Regions from separate parts of the Homo sapiens genome. Here region 2 is linked to region 1. Evidence: fine-mapped expression QTL. Tissue or cell type: breast. Region 1 holds a variant in brackets; the other region holds the start of a gene. All regions are shown on one strand. Distances are between the middles of the regions.

Region 1 (8,205 bases):
TCAAAGGGACCAGTGAGAATATTAACAAGTAGACTGCAGGAGATAGGGAAAAAAATAAAGGCAATATCCCTGATTGATCGCCTCCTAAATAATTTAAAAATTTATGTTTAAGTAGCTACTTTACATTCAATTAAGAGCCAGGAGACCTAGAGTCTAATTGGACTCTTTTATTCAATAGCATGGTCAAAATAACAATAAATCATAACAAATGCTTGAGTTCTTGTTATATGTCAGGCTCTGTACTATGCACATTACATGAATTGGTCTTTCATTTCATGTACAACACAACACTCATATAAAGAAAATATATTTTCACACCCATTGAATAATGAGAAAGCGAGGCTTAAACTTGCTTAAAGTTGCACAGCAGAACCCTGGACCTCAGTTTTCTTCCTGAAAAGAGAGGGCATGCATATATATTTTTTTCTCATTCAAAAACATGCGTATTTAGCAACAGCTCATGCCAGGCGCCCTGCAGAGCTACGGAGCTATGATTGAAGACACGGTGGCCCTGTCTGCAGCACGCCCCCTAGTGGGTTGGAGTGTCTCCATGGCCCTTCCAGCCCTGTGATCTGCATTTCTGCCCCTGCTTTCTCAGTGGTTGAATGGAACATATGCGTAAGTTGGCGATCTTCTCTCACATATCCATGTTTGCCTGCAGGTGGTGGGCAGGGGAGTGGGAAGCATGCTCGGCGACATGCGGGCCCCACGGGGAGAAGAAGCGAACCGTGCTGTGCATCCAGACCATGGTCTCTGACGAGCAGGCTCTCCCGCCCACAGACTGCCAGCACCTGCTGAAGCCCAAGACCCTCCTTTCCTGCAACAGAGACATCCTGTGCCCCTCGGACTGGACAGTGGGCAACTGGAGTGAGGTGAGCTCAGGGCTCGGCGGGGAAACTGGCATTATTCAAGCTTCATCAGCCCCTGCCTTCCTTCTCATTATCCAATCCAAAGTGACCCTAGGTAAAATTGCAAAATAGCCAGTGTTCATCACCCCTGGCCTGTCTCCTGCCTTTCCTGTGTCCACTACTTATTTTCCATTCATAGGGGATCTTGCTCCCACTTGCTCAATGGTCAGCTTACTATCTGACAGGGGTGAGGTAGACCCCCCACTCCCAGTACAGGATCACAAAGACTAGTTAATAAATCATCAGAAGCTTGGCCAGGCCCATTGTTAAACCACTGGTAGCAGATAAGGGACCTCCCACACACCCCAAAAGTGGTTTATAAAACATTGACTGCACATCACTGTAGTTAACCCAAACCAAAAGAGTGTCGCTTGACACTGAGAAAAATCCCCTCAAATTATCCATCTATTCACCATGTGTCAAGTCCAAACCAGACCAAGGTTTCTAACATCTATTATCAGACACACAAGTTCAGATAAATGTTGCATTTTCCCAAAATTAATTTGATCTAATTATCTGACTATAATTGGAAATCAGTAAGCTGGAAGGTTATGAAAAGCTCTCTCAGGCTTTAATTTTCTTTGGGTCACTTTGGAATCTGGTTTCATCAGGCATTGTCATGTTCCCAGTTATTAGTGGAAGGCCCCAAAGTCTCCAAGGGCCTCAGCTCTGCTTCTCTATGTGCAGTTCAGTGAACAACCTAAGAATAACTAGAAAATACATGTTTTTTAAAAATTAACAGGCCAGAGTTTAGAGATGGATGCTGACTTTATCTTACGAGCTTCCTTGAGAAGCCGTATGCTTCCATGATAATGCTACCACTGGACAGGCACCTGTAATCCCAGCACTTTAGGAGGCCGAGGAAGGAGGATCACTTGAGCTTAGGAGTTTGAGACCAGCCCAAGCAACATGATGAAACACCATCTCTATGAAAAATACAATTAGCCAGTCATGGTGGCACATGCCTGTAGTCCCAGCTACTTGGGTGGCTGAGGCAGGAGGATCGCTTGAGACTGGGAGATCGAGGCTGTAGTGAGCTGATATCATGCCACTGTACTCCAGCCTAGGTGAGAAAGTGAGACCCTGTCTCAAAATAATAATAATAACAATAATGCCACCATTGCTCAGGATATTTTAGGAACTCCTGTGAGGACTCAGGAGAAAATGGAGAATATCTGATTCAGGAGAATGCCACAGAAAGTCAATTAGAATGGGGCCTGATGGATAAATGAATAATGTGATCAAAATCTTTGTGTTTAAAAAATATTTGATGATAAATATGTGACAGATTGCTTTTCACCTGCTCTGAAAGAAAAATTCTAAAATTTGTGTAAGCAAAGATACCATCTCTGAAGATACCTATTTGAAAGCAAAACACTCATTTAAATACAGCAGCTTTGATGAAACCTTATTTCCAAGACTCCCTTTTATTAGCTTATGTCACAGTTTAGGTTTATTTACCTTCTGAATCTGTACAGGATGTTCTCTTGGGCATCTAGGTGAAATTAAAAAAAAAAAAAGAAACAGAAAATATGGTCCCTAGATGGTAAGAACTTCCATCCAGTGGGAGAGATGGGATCCAGAAAAGAAAAAGAAAAAAGGAAAGGAAGGATAAAGATATGCATGCAAAGAAATATACCTACATACAAATATGGGTGTATTACTGATTCATGCACAGATGTATGTACACACATCAGTGATAAGCCATACATTCTTTTTGCTATTCCTGGGAGAGTATAATCACGGCATTTGGTTGGCCTGCCTTATTAGTCCACTGCAACCTAGGTTTCTGTGAATTACAGTGTTGTCAAAATAAGGCTGAATGGAGTATTGTGACTGGCCTATTAAATCTGTTTACCAAAAATGTGTTGGCCGCATCCAAAACTGTTAATAATTCTTGTCATGTAGAATTTACTAATTGCCAACATCTTAATGCTTTTTCAGAGGACTGCAATTACAGATTTGGCTGAGGAGTTCTTCTTAATGTGTTCACGTTTATGGGAAGCGTAGTAACCTGTCTTAACTGGAGAACAAGAGACCAAAAAGTTGGCATGATGTAAGAAGCACTTGGGTCTGTGATTCCATATGTAGGCCATTGCATAGTCAATGGACCACACATGGACAGTTTCTAGCTTCCACTTGACAGAGCTGAGCAGAAAGGCTGGGCCAATGCCCTCATTCAGAAGATGTCATTGGAAGTGCTTTTAGTTAAATCAGTATCAAAATATTCATCAAATGGGTCTTCCTTTCTTCTATCTGCTCTCTTACTAATAACCTCCTAATGAACTTTGCTGGAGTATGATGAAATGTCTTTGACATTCTAACTATGCCCAGATACTTTTTTTAAAGAGAGGTGACATAGTGATTCTTGGCAGGCAGTATTTATTATCTAGATTTTGTCTGGAGACCAACATCATTTGAAGCAGGATAGTGCTCCAGCCATCATTTGGTCTGCACTGTGTCATTTTCATCTGCATTTGTCATTTTCATCACCCTGGATGGTCTAAAACTGTAAAGTTACTTATCCAAAAGGCCCAAGAACTGACAGCCTTCTAGACTCCTGTAAAATGGCCTTCTCTGGGCTGAACTAAGTGAGAAGAAAGAGGAAGTACATTCATGAGCTCCTTTCCTTATCAAAGCACTCCACCAACTCAAGCAGTGAGGAGAGAGTGGGCTCAGCCGTGCCAGGTTGGTACACTCATCCCTGTCCCAGCAGGGATCAGAAAGGGGAGCTCTCTCCCCTGCTGCCCCAGACAGGCTTTCCTGCCCCCTGTGACCAGCCCCTTTTCTCTAAGCTTATGTTCTAGATACCTGACTCTCACCTCCAATCTCAGGTTTTACCAAGAATCTTATCCTGGTTTTGCCCATCCTACTTTGTGGACTTAAAGGGTAAAGAAGG[G/A]AACTCTATTGTAAACAGAGACCAGGTATCAAAGTTACTGTGACTCCCTTACTTCCCAGATACACCATTTCAGGGACATGCCTTGTGAGAGGCAGCCAGTCTAGTAGTGAAGGGCACAGCCCCTAGAGCATGGCTTCCTGGGTTCAAATGTGTATGTGTGGCAAACAGGACACTCCAGAAGCCAGGATGTGTGTGTTTGTTTATACAGTTTTCCTTTCCAAAGGCATTTCAGGCAGTTTACAATAAAAGGGCTCTAGACATTGAAGTGGTGAACTAGAAGTTGTAGCCACACGTGGGAGCAGAGAGCAACATGATAAACATGAGAATAATAGGGTTATTTTGATGAAGCTTTCAGTTTAACCCAGTGCATCCAGACAACCAGGGCAATAAGGGCAGCCCAGTGGGTTCCATAATTCTTTCTTTTTGATAGATGGAAGGGTACCTCTTCTTCAAGAGACACCCCTGGTACCCCCAATGAGAGCTTTAAAATAAATTGCCAAAATTATATGAGATTTTTAATCATGGCTCCAATGGTTTAGTCAGATACTTTGTAAAAACCTATGCCATCTTTTTCCTTGGAGGGATGGATGGATGGATGGATGGATGGATGGATGGATGGATGGATACATGGATAACCACCATGTACTTAATAAATGTTTGACTAGTGCATCCTTGGCAGAAAGGGAAGTGGGAAGAGTCCTGGCTGAGATCATGGAGAAACCATCTTAGTTCTGGCCTTGTATTGCATAAACTTGTATTGCATAAACTTGTATTGCATATTGAACAGTCTTAGGAAAATGATTTTTCCTTATAGGACCTCAGTTTGCTCAATTATGAACCAACATGTTATTTCTCCTAGTAATTAGACTAATAGTAATGATAGGTGGTAATTTTTCTAGGTTTTCCAGCCCTGGCAATCTAATTGTGTGGCCTTGAGCCAGTGCTAATTCTCTCTTAGCCTGTTGTCACTGAGAAAGATAGGATTATTGTAAGAATTGAATAAGATAATTCATGCAAACACTTAGCGTAGTGCCTGGTAAAAAGTAAGTGTTCACTAAATTATTATCAGACAAGAAGACAAAAGTCTGTTTTCCATGCTACTCTGATTTTGCAAACCTTGTTCAATCAGTCGTACCCAAATGTGCTGAAGGAACTGATTTGTGGCCCCTTAAGTTTTCACCTATCCTCTCCTTGAGCTCAGGGAGCTCATTCATTTTATGCATGAAACACTATAAGCGCAGTGCTTGGGGCCTACAGATTTTTCAAGGGCCTGCACAACATTTGAGACCTGAAAAAAAAAACCTCATGCATTGCATCTATAAAAACAAAAGGACCCTGCAAAATCAGAAATCAATATTTAATTACATATTAATAGGAAATACATACCAAGCATTTTGTATGTATTATTACTATGTATTATGTATGTATCTATTAAGTACTTTTATGGGTATTAGCACATTTAATCTTCACCATGACTTATTTAGCCCCATTTTATTAATACAAGTGAAGAAACTGAGGCATAGAAACATTTAGAAATTTGTCCAAGGTCACATAACCACTAAACCACGGAGCCAGGATTTGAACGCAGGCAGCACAGCGTCTACTCTGAATGTACACTTTGCCATACTGCATCTCAAATATCTGCAAAGTGTAGCAATATGACAGCTCTTAGTATTCATAAGAAATGTTTTGTGTTTGGAAATTATTTGTAGACTGGCTTTTCTCATTCTGTTGGAATTTCAGACTATGCATGACAATTGCTGAGAAATCAGAGCCTCCCCAAAATTAAATGTTACCCTCAGTGAATAACTTCAAAAGCGCAGGAAAAAAATAAAGCCTTTCACAAAAGATTTCAATAGACATTTCTCAAAAGAAGGCATACTAATGGCAAGCAGGCATATGAAAAGGTGCTCAATATCGTTGATCATCAGAGAAATGCAAATCAAAACTATAATGAGATACAACTTTTATTCCAGTTAAAATGGCTTACATCCAAAAGACGGCAAAAGCAAATGCTGGTGAGGATGTGGAGAAAAGGGAACCCTCGTACACTGTTGGTAGGAATGTAAATAGTTTAACCACTGTGGAGAGCAGTTTGGAGGTTCCTCAAAAACGTAAAAGTTAAGCTATCACGTGATCCAGCAATCCCACTGCTGGGTATATACCAAAAAGAAAGGAAACCAGTCTATCAAAGGGATATCTGCACTCCTATGTTTGTTGCAGCGCTGTTTGCAATAGCTAAGATTTGGAAGCAACCCAAGTGTCCCTCAACAGACGACTAGATAAAGAAAATGTGGTGCATATGCATGGTGGAGTACTATTCAGCCATAGGAATGAATGAGATTCAGTCATTTGCAACAACGTGGATAAACTGGAGATCATTATGTGAAGTGAAATAAGCCAGGCACAGAAAGGGAAACATTGCATGTTCTAACTTATTTTAGGGCTCTAAAAATCAAAACAATTGAACTTATGGACATAGAGAGTAGAAGGATAGTTACTAGAGGCTAGAAACAGTAGCGAGAGTTTGCAGGGAAGGTGGGGATGATTAATGGGTACAAAAAAAAAATAGAAAGAATGAATAAGACCTACTATTTGATAGTACAATGAGGTGACTATAGTCAATAATAACTTAATTACACATTTTAAAATAACTTAAAGAGTATAATTAGATTGTTTGTAACTCGAAGGATAAAAGCTTGAGAGGGTGGATACCCCATTCTCTATGACGTGCTTATTTCACATTGCATGCCTGTTTCAAAACATCTCATGTACCCCATAAATATATACACCTACTATGTACCCATAAACATTTTTTAAAACTGGAATGGAAAAAAATAATTTCAAATGTTTTTTATAGCAAAAGTTACGTTTCACTTGAGACAAGAAATGCATTTGAATATATTTGATGGGACATGAGGTGGAGGCTCTAAAAGCAGACACACACAGAGTCTAGGAAGATCTTTAACTGGCCCTTCCTGCGCCTGACAAAAACACACAAACAAAACATTCACTTAACCAAGGTACTGAGAATCGATAAAGTACAAAGCTCATCACAGGGGTGTTGGAATGCAGAGTGACCAAATAGACCGAATGCCGATGTTCACAAATGAGCTCTCTGGCTCTTGGGATAGAAGACGTGGCAGCAAATGGCAATGCTATGTCTATTGCTAAGTGGGAAGCAAAGCTAGACTCATGTGAAGTCCCTGCCACCCGAGGGAAGAGAGCATGGAGGGATAGGGGCATTTTTGAGAGTCGCTGACCCTCTGGATTCCCCAGTCCCAGGCACTCCTGTGGGGCTGGCCACCTGATGTTCTGACCTTGTCACTCCCTCTTTTGGTGTGGAGTGTCATTCATCAACATCTCAGTTCTTCCCAGGCATCAGTAGCCTGTGCTCTGCCAGGGTTCCTGGGGAACAGATATGGGCACCTCTGTTTGCAACAACTACTCACAGAAAACCAGCTGAGAGCTATGTTGATTGTCCTCCTCAGGTCTGATTTGTTTTAATTATCTAGGTCTGATTTTTTTTTATTATCTTAGCTCCCGAGGGCTGCCCTAATGAAGTACCACAAACTGGGCAGATTAAACAACAGGAATTTGTTGTCTCACATGTGCAGAAGCTACAAATCCAAGGTCAAGGTGTTGGCAAAGTGAATTCCTTCTGAAAGCTGGGAGGATGAATTGTTCCACGCCTTTCCCCCAGCTTCTGGTGGTTTGACGTCAATCTTTGGTGCTCATTGGCTTGTAAATGCATCACTCCAATCTCTGCCTTCATCTTCACATGACATTCTACCTGCCTGTGATCTCTGTGTTCAGATTCCCCTTTTGATGTGGATACCATTAGGGCCCACCCTAATGACCTTATTGTAACTTGATTACCTTTTTAAAGATCCTTTCTCCAAATAAGGTCAAATTCTGAGATTGGGGGCATTGGGATTTTGACATATCTTTTTTGAGAGGGACACAATTCAACCCAAAACAGATACCTATGTGTTTTAGCTTGCTTTCAAAGCTGGTGTTTGTATGAGATCTAATTATTCATTTATAAATTTCTGAGATTGTGCATTAAATGTTTTAATGCCCAAAGTATTCACTGTTTCTCTACTCAGCCCTTTAGCCCAAACCCTCTGATAAACTCCGACTGTGTTTTCGAATAAACCCTTTCTCAGCACTACAGCTCAGTGCCAATTGTGAGCCTTTTCACCCACCACAGTGGACCACAGGTGGGTGGAGTTGATAAATTGGGCAGCAAACCTCTTTCTCAGTGGGTTCCCCGACAAGAGGCCTGTATCCAGGATGGTGATAAGTGAGGGCAAAATGACTCCCAAAGAGCAGGTTAACAGGTTGACATGCTGCTTTCCTGGTCCAGGGTTCAAAATTACAAGGAAAGGGCATACG
Region 2 (8,178 bases), 140 kb after region 1:
AAAGACAGGTTAACAACTTACAATAAAGGCAAGTCTTTAAAAAGTAGGAAGGAGTTACTAACGATGTTTAACTCCTCAAATTTCATTTATTTTATTTTAACTATTCTTGTGACTCTCGCTTCAGGTTTACTTGGACCACATACCAAACATATGGCCACAAGGAAGCACGCAGTTGATTCAGTAAGCATATTTCCAGGGGAAAAAAAAAAAAACTGAATGCAAAGTGTGCCCATGAATTCCACCAGTGCTAACAAAAGCCATGGAAGAAGCAAACATAAGGCCCAATCCCTACCATGTGTAAACCTAGTCTCTCCAGGGAAAGTAAGGCATACATGTGTGAGAAACTCCCGGAGGAGAAAACACAGTAGTAACGCTACGATTAGATGTCAAATAAGCTAGGACTAGCGTTTTAAAGGATGGAATGCATTTCAACAGGTGGATTCTGAGAATACAGGAAATGTGTCCTATGTGTACACATAAGCTTGTTGTCAGAAATGTTAAAATTTAAAGAGAGAAAAAATGACTAAACCAGGCTGATTAATGAAGGATTGTTTTAGAAAGTAATACAAGGTAAGACAGACTAAGGCTCACAGAAGCAAGAACTAAAAGTTACCATAAGGAATACAGACTTCAATTAGAAGCAAGTGAAGTCATAGAAAGTTTTAAAGTAATAAATCCTGTGCCAGGAATGTAAACAGGGATTTTAATTAGTTTGCATGTTTGTGACCTTTAGTTTTCTTAAGTTTTAAGATACAATTCATATACCATACAAGTTACCCATGTAAAGTACACAATTCAATGGTTTTTAGGTATTCACTGTTTTGCAACTATCACTACCATCAATTTTAGAGTATTTTCATCACCCTCAAAAAGAAACCTTGTACCCATTAGCAGTTTACTCCCTGTTGCCTTCATCTCCAGACCCTGGCAACCATTAACCTAGTTTCTGTTTCTATAGATTTGCCTATTCTGGGAATTTCATATAAATAGAATCACACATTATGTGGTCTTTTGTGACAGGCTTCTTTTAGTTAGCATAATAATTTCAAGATCATCAGGTTGTAACATGCATCAATACTTGTCATTGTACCTTTTTATTATCAAATAATATTCCATTGCTTACTTATCCATTTATCAGTTGATGGACATTTTGGCCATTGTCTTTTAAATCCTATAAAATGCGTTACTTGTATAATTAAAAAAAAAACTAATTTTAAAATATGACTCCTAATTTCATGCTGAGCTAAAATCCCCCCTACTCCAGAAGTCTGGATTTAATAAACTTTAAAGGTTCATTTAGATTCAATAGAGCCTTTGTTATACTGCAGAAGTGATGTAACTGATCAAGTATACTGGGTAAAAAGAAAAATTGCGGCTGGGCGCGGTGGCTCATGCCTGTAATCCCAGCACTTTGGGAGGCCGAGGCGGGCAGATCACGAGGTCAGGAGATCGAGACCATCCTGGCTAACACGGTGAAACCCCGTCTCTACTAAAAAATACAAAAAAAATTAGCCGGGCGTGGTGGCGGGTGCCTGTAGTCCCAGCTACTCGGGAGGCTGAGGCAGGAGAATGGCTGGAACCCGGGAGGCGGAGCTTGCAGTGAGCAGAGATCGCGCCACTGCACTCCAGCCTGGGAGACAGAGCAAGACTCCATTTCAACAACAACAACGACAACAAAAAAAAAAAAAAAAAGAAAGAAAAATTGCAGGTCTGTGCAGGTTTAAAATGGAAAGATGATAAAATAAGTTTTATATTTCTGATAAGATTATTTTGGTTTTGACCATTTGCCAAATGAACAGGGGTAGTGAGAGAGAGAGAGAGAGAGAGAGAGAGAGAGAGAGAGAGAGGGAGAGAGAGAGAGGGAATCACCACAAAGGTTTTCTGGTTCTAAATACGGCTCCATTTTACAAACAAGAACACTGGCTCAAAGAAGTAACTTGCCCATTTGTATCATTAAGTAATAGAGCTGGGAAATTACAACAGGTCTCTCTGGAACCCTGAGGCCTATGACCCCTTTTCTACAACACTGGGAAGAGAGTAGGCAACTGTTCTCTATTTCCCTGAGTATATATGGTATGTACATCTACATACAAGTAATCTAAAATCTCAACCCAAAAGTTGGGAAACAGAACCGGATTGTGAAGAGAAGCTACAGAATTACCTTTCTCAGGAATGATCTGTCCCTGACTCACTCAGAACAGCACAGGGGTTATTAGTATTGGCTATAGGATACTGGGTTTGAGGAAGGAAAAAAACGGGGATACTGGGTTTGAGCAAGTTACTGTTCCTACGCCTGCTTTCTCATCTGTATAATGGAGATAATAACAGAACCCACTTCACAGCGTTATTAAGAAGACTGAATGAGGCCGGGCGCGGTGGATCACGCCTGTAATCCAAGAACTTTGGGAGGCCGAGACGGGCGGATCACGAGGTCAGGAGATCGAGACCATCCTGGCTAACACGGTGAAACCCCGTCTCTACTAAAAATACAAAAAATTAGCCAGGCCTGGTGGCTGAGGCAGGAGAATGGCATGAACCCGGGAGGTGGAGCTTGCAGTGAGCCGAGATCGCACCACGGCACTCCAGCCTGAGTGACAGAGCGAGACTCCGTCTCAAAAAAAAGAAGACTGAATGAGTTAATTCATGGAATGCATTAATACAGTGCCAAACTCGTATTTAGTACTCAAAATAAATATTAACTATTGTATAATTATTACAGGAAGGAAAAATTACATATGTGTTAACCATACATATCACGTCCAATTAAGAATAGCACAGGAGAATATTTATGGACATGGAAAGTTGTTGACCACATTCTATTAAGCAAAAAAAAAAAAAAAAAAAAAAGTTACAAAACAGTAAAAATATCATTTTATGTGAAAAAAATCTACGTATAGTCACCATTTATCATCTAGAATTAAATTTACATAGTTAGAATGTGCCCGTATGCAGTTTCTCCATTCAATCTCGAGTGGACAATCAAGAAAAAAATTTGGCTTTTAAGTGAACTGTCCTGTCACAGACTTGGGATAGAGGATCCCTTAGCTGAAGACGTCACCACTTCTCACTTGGACTATTACAACAGCCTTCTGCATGTGGCCTAACCTTCTATCCCAATGCCAGCGTGACTTTTACAAATACAATCTTCCTGCTTAAGATCCTTCATGTATAGAATACAAGTTTCAAACATCCTTGTTGCCTAAGATCCTTCTGATTACTGTTCCTTTAACCCTTCTGGCATATCTCTTGCAAACAACCCGAAAGACAATTCACCTGCGTGCCCCTTTTCACTGCCTTCCCTACCTTTACGTGGGAAGCCCCGTCCTGCCTGTTTACCTGGTGAAATCATTCTTCCAAACTAAATTCTAAAGTGCCTTCCTAAACTTCCTCTTCTGTAATACCACAAGGTTGATCACAAAGCACTAGGGCTGTTTTCCTGTCTCTTACACATCAGCCTGTGAGGCCCTCAAAGTCGGGGAACTGGGCCCTATTCATCTTCCCACATGCACCGCCCAGATCAGTGCCGGGCAAAATGTATACTTAACCACCCAAACTTGGACAAGCTGGGTCAGATCTCGGGCACTCGGTTTTCCTTTCCTTAAAATGGAGCTCTTTACCCCCGCAGGATCTTAGGAGATTGATTAAATAAGGCTCTGCAATGTGTTTCCCGCTTACAGTAAGCCATAAACGCAAGTTTGGAAGCCTCAAGCCTAAGATTCTGATTCTGTCTCCGCGTCTAACTACTGTAGATGTGAGGCTCTGAACAAGTCGCTCACTCAAGGTCTGTTTCCTCATCTGTAAAGAGAATGGACCCACAGATGAACTGCAAGGCCCCACCCTAATTTATGAATGGATGGTTCCCAAAGGGGGTTCCGACTTTCCAGGAGTCCCACCATCCCCCACTTCTCCGACCCACGCGGTCCCGGCCGCTTCCTGCTTCCTGCCCCCCGCTCCCGCCGCGAGCGTAGCGTCTGCACCCACTAGAGTCCCAGGCTGGTCTCTGGGTCCCACCAAGTTTGCTCACCGGCTTCTCCTCGCCTCCCATCTTCCCTGAAGGACTGCTGGCCTTCTCCTCAAACATTGGCGAACGACGAAGCGATGAGAGAACCCGAAAGCGACGGCCTAGAGGAGAGGAGCCAAGAGGCGGGTGGGAGGTGGGCTAGCGCCCGGGACTTGGCCTCGGCTGGACCAGCTGATGCAATCGAAAGGCGCCCTAACCCCGCCCCCAACTTGCGGCGGAACGAGCAGCCAATGGATAACGGGGGAAGGCGGGCCCTCCCTCCTCTAAGCCAGTGGAAAATCTTTTCGGGTGACAGAGCCCTTCTAGGAAATCAGGTCGCGGAGGGTGAGGAGGAGCAACTGCAGAAGCTACATGCCTACTCTCCGCTGACCTTGGTCTGGACGCTTTCCAGAGTCAAGTCCCCAATGCGCGTGCGCCTTTCCTCCCTTCTGACTTTATGTGGAACAATCATGGACCTTCCCGGACACCGTAGATAATAAGTAGGTCTTGGTCTAAACTTCCGGGAAGTTTTCGGCGACCTGGATACCATCTTCGACACGGGGACAAATCCCGGGATGGAGTCCAGGGTTTCCCGCGGCTTCGGCGCTTCCTGACCTGGCGTGACTGCCGACTTGTCGGCACCACCCAGGCCTCAGGCTCCCTGTCTGTAGTGGTGAATCGACCTTCCTCATGGCAGTCCAGGCTTCCCAAGCCCCATGTCCTGTTGATCCGGGACAAACTCTTCCTTGAACGTTCTTCACTACGAGCCGCTGCTGATCTGTACTGCCTGGAGGAGCATTTCCATAGCGCCCGCAAAAATACAATAAAGCTCACCCAAGGAAATAACCATGGATTCTCACGCCTGGGTGCCAGTGTTTGGAATCGACTGGGCTTTTTTATGTTAGTAGGCAATTTAAAACAATTACTTATTTGAAATCAGAAGCGCAATAGGCATAACTTCAGGTACGTGCTCCACCACCACGTTTTGTGGATTTTTCTTTTTAAACATCAGTTCTGTTCTCTACAACTCTCCGCCTTCAGGGTTATACTTTCCAGGAACAATAGCTTCCCAATTCGGCTTTGTGCATCCATTTTTCATACAGCATCGTTGTAGTCTTCAAATACAAATATGATCACGGCAATCTGCTGAAAAATCTTTGGTGGCTTTCCCTTGCTCTTGGACAATCCCTGATTGTCCAAGTTTTCGGCTTCATCTCGTTCGCCCACCATACACTGAACTATAAACTGTAGTGGCTTTTTTTCCTCAGGTCTTCCCACAGACTAAGTACCAAGATTTTTCCACCCTACCCTCATCCGTGCTCATTCCGACACACTTTTTGCCTGTTTGACACCTCATTTATTGTCAGATTTCAAGAATCGTTTTCTTCGGGGAACCATTTCTTGACTCCCTTACTGGATGAAACAAGCCTCCCTGTTAAACAGTGTTGGAGGCGCAGAAACATACCCCCAAATAATGGCGTTTTGACATCTGAACTGAAGAAGCCTCAAGGTCCCACTCCCCTAAATCCCCACGCCATCTCTGCCAAAGCAAAGGATAAAGTTTAGACACATCACAAGGAACATAATTGTTTTTGTTGCCTCCCTGTAAGACCAAGAATGTAGTAATCACACCTGAGCAGACCCTTTCACAAGATGTTGTACAAATTAATGTGTTCCTGATACATTCATTCTCCTTTGTAATCCCTCAACAGAATTCCTCTTCTCCCTATCATAACCTGTGTCGCTGGGATTGTATCCACAAGCTTCTGAAGCCCTCTGAGGGGTGGGTAATCACGCTGTGATTCTTCCTGTGTATACACGTTAAGTAAATTTGTATGTTTTTTCTATTAATGTTCCTCATGTTAGTGATTTTCAGCCAAACCTCAGAGGGCCAAGGAGAAAGGTCCCCTTGGCGCTTACAATAGTGTCTGCTGGTAGTTTCATGTGGTTCTTGGTAGAACTTACCGGTTCAACTTGTTCTTTCACTATGTGTGTATTTAGAGCTAAGCAAGTTTACTATATATGTGTATATATATATATATATACACACACACACACATATACACATACGTATATGTATATACATATATTATATATATATATATGCACAGTAATGGTTCTGATCAGTTGGCCTAAGAGTACACCCTATGTGGGGCTTCACGTACTGCTACACTCACAGGCAGAATTGGGGGTTGTTTTTCTGTCCAGAGTGATTGATCCTGATTACAAGGGGACAAGCGGGTTTCTTCTACATAAAGGAGAATTTTGTCAAGAACCCAGGAGATTCACTGAGACCTTTTTTAGTACTTCCTTGTCTAATGTTTCGCTGTTGGAAAACTCTGGGAACCCAACAAAGACAAGGAAGGAAGGAAGGTTTGGGCTATCCTTCTAGGTAAAGAATCTAGTCTAGCGAGGTCCTGACAAAGGCTAAGGGTAACTTGAAAAGGTGCTAGGAGAACAGAGTTATGCAATATTAGCTACCTAATTTGCAGATTACATATATATGTATACACATATACATATGTGTGTGTGTGTGTGTGTGTGTGTATATATATATAACTGCTCTTTAGCTGACACCTTGATTTTAATAATAGTCCTTTTCTTTTCTTTTTTCTTTGAGATGAGGTCTTGCTCCATTACCCAGGCTGGAGTGCAGTGGCACAATCATAGCTCACTACAGACTCAAACTGCTGTACTCAAGCAGTCCTTCTGCCTCAGCTTCCCAAGTAGGTAGGACTGCAGGCACACACCACCACACCCAGTTAATTTTTTCTTATTTTTTATTCTATCTATCTATCCATTTATTTATTTTTGAGACAGAGTCTTGCTCTGTTGCCCAGGCTGGAGTGCAGTGGTGTGATCACAGCTCACTGCAGCCTTGATCTCCCAGGCTCAATTGATCCCCTCGCCACAGTCTCCTGAACAGCTGGGACTACAGGTGCACACCACCACGCTCGGCTAATATATATATTTTTTAATTTTTAGTAGACATGAGGTCTCACTATGTTACCCAGACTTGTCTCAAACTCCTGAGCTTAAGCTCTTCTCCTACCTTGCAAGTTTATAGTTTTTTTAAAATATATTTTATCTCCTTGATTGAAAACTTCACGAAAGCACACTTTGTGTATTTTTGCCAGCATCTGGAAGATGTAAACCTATCGCACAGCAGATGTTCAATAAATGTTGAGTGTTGAGACAAAACTTGCTTAATTTTTCAAGCAAGGTTTGGAAAATTACCTCTTTATTTGTATTATAAAAGAAGTCAAAACCCCTTTACTAACTAGATCTAGAAGAAAGTTTATGATGAGAGTAGATTATTAGTAGTGCTTGATATTCCAGGAGTTATGTACAATTTTAATAGGCTTAAATAGACCAAACTAACTCCCCACATTTAAATTAGAATGAGAATCAATAGGATCTAATCTTACCTTTTAATGTAAAACAATTTAATTATGCTCATTAGACACATTTGCCTGAATTGTATCTTAATTTTAACTAAGTATAATGAAAACCAGAGAGATCAAGATTCCTGAATTTGCTGGATGCAGAAAATGATAGGCTAACAATTATATTTAACTGCTATATAACATTGTTTCTAGCAGCTTCTCTTAACTCTTTGTTCTCTTTCAACTTTAAAAACAGTCCTCATTTAAGTATGGCAAAAAGAAAAAGCAGAAGGCGTTTCTTTTTTTAAATATATTTTTATTATACTTTAAGTTCTAGGGTACATGTGCACAACGTGCAGGTTTGTTACATATGTATACATGTGCCATGTTGGTGTGCTGCACCCATTAACTCGTCATTTACATTAGTTATATCTCCTAATGCTATCCCTCCCCCGTCCCCCAACCCCACAACAGGCCCCGGTGTGTGATGTTCCCCTTCCAGTGTCCAGGTGTTCCCATTGTTCAATTCCCACCTATGAGTGAGGACATGCGGTGTTTGGTTTTTTGTCCTTATGATAGTTTGCTGAGAATGATGGTTTCCAGCTTCATCCATGTCCCTACAAAGGACATGAACTCATCATTTTTTATGGCTGCATAGTATTCCATGGTGTATATGTGCCATATTTTCTTAATCCAGTCTATCATTGTTGGACATTTGGGTTGGTTCCAAGTCTTTGCTATTGTGAATAGTGCTGCAATAAACATACGTGTGCATGTGTCTTTATAGCAGCA

The links. PIP is the estimated chance that this variant, and not a neighbour inherited with it, causes the effect.
Region 2: it holds the start of TARS1-DT, and the variant in region 1 is fine-mapped to the expression of TARS1-DT in breast (GTEx, PIP 0.97).

What each region holds. Positions count from the first base shown.
Region 1 is chr5:33,581,266-33,589,470 of GRCh38, reverse strand. ADAMTS12 (ADAM metallopeptidase with thrombospondin type 1 motif 12) reads left to right here. Exons shown (of 24, transcript NM_030955.4): 18 at 662-872. Among named protein-coding and RNA genes, the nearest start is that of TARS1, 140 kb to the right of the region's middle. RefSeq lists a silencer at 566-615. The variant G/A (reference allele first, on the strand shown) is at 3,808.
Region 2 is chr5:33,436,990-33,445,167 of GRCh38, reverse strand. TARS1-DT (TARS1 divergent transcript) reads left to right here and starts at 4,534. Exons shown (of 3, transcript XR_001742630.2): 1 at 4,534-4,963. TARS1 (threonyl-tRNA synthetase 1) reads right to left here and starts at 4,203. Exons shown (of 19, transcript NM_152295.5): 1 at 4,025-4,203. The coding sequence starts at 4,081. RefSeq lists enhancers at 3,095-3,681, 3,696-3,755, 4,016-4,205, 4,306-4,615, 4,270-4,857.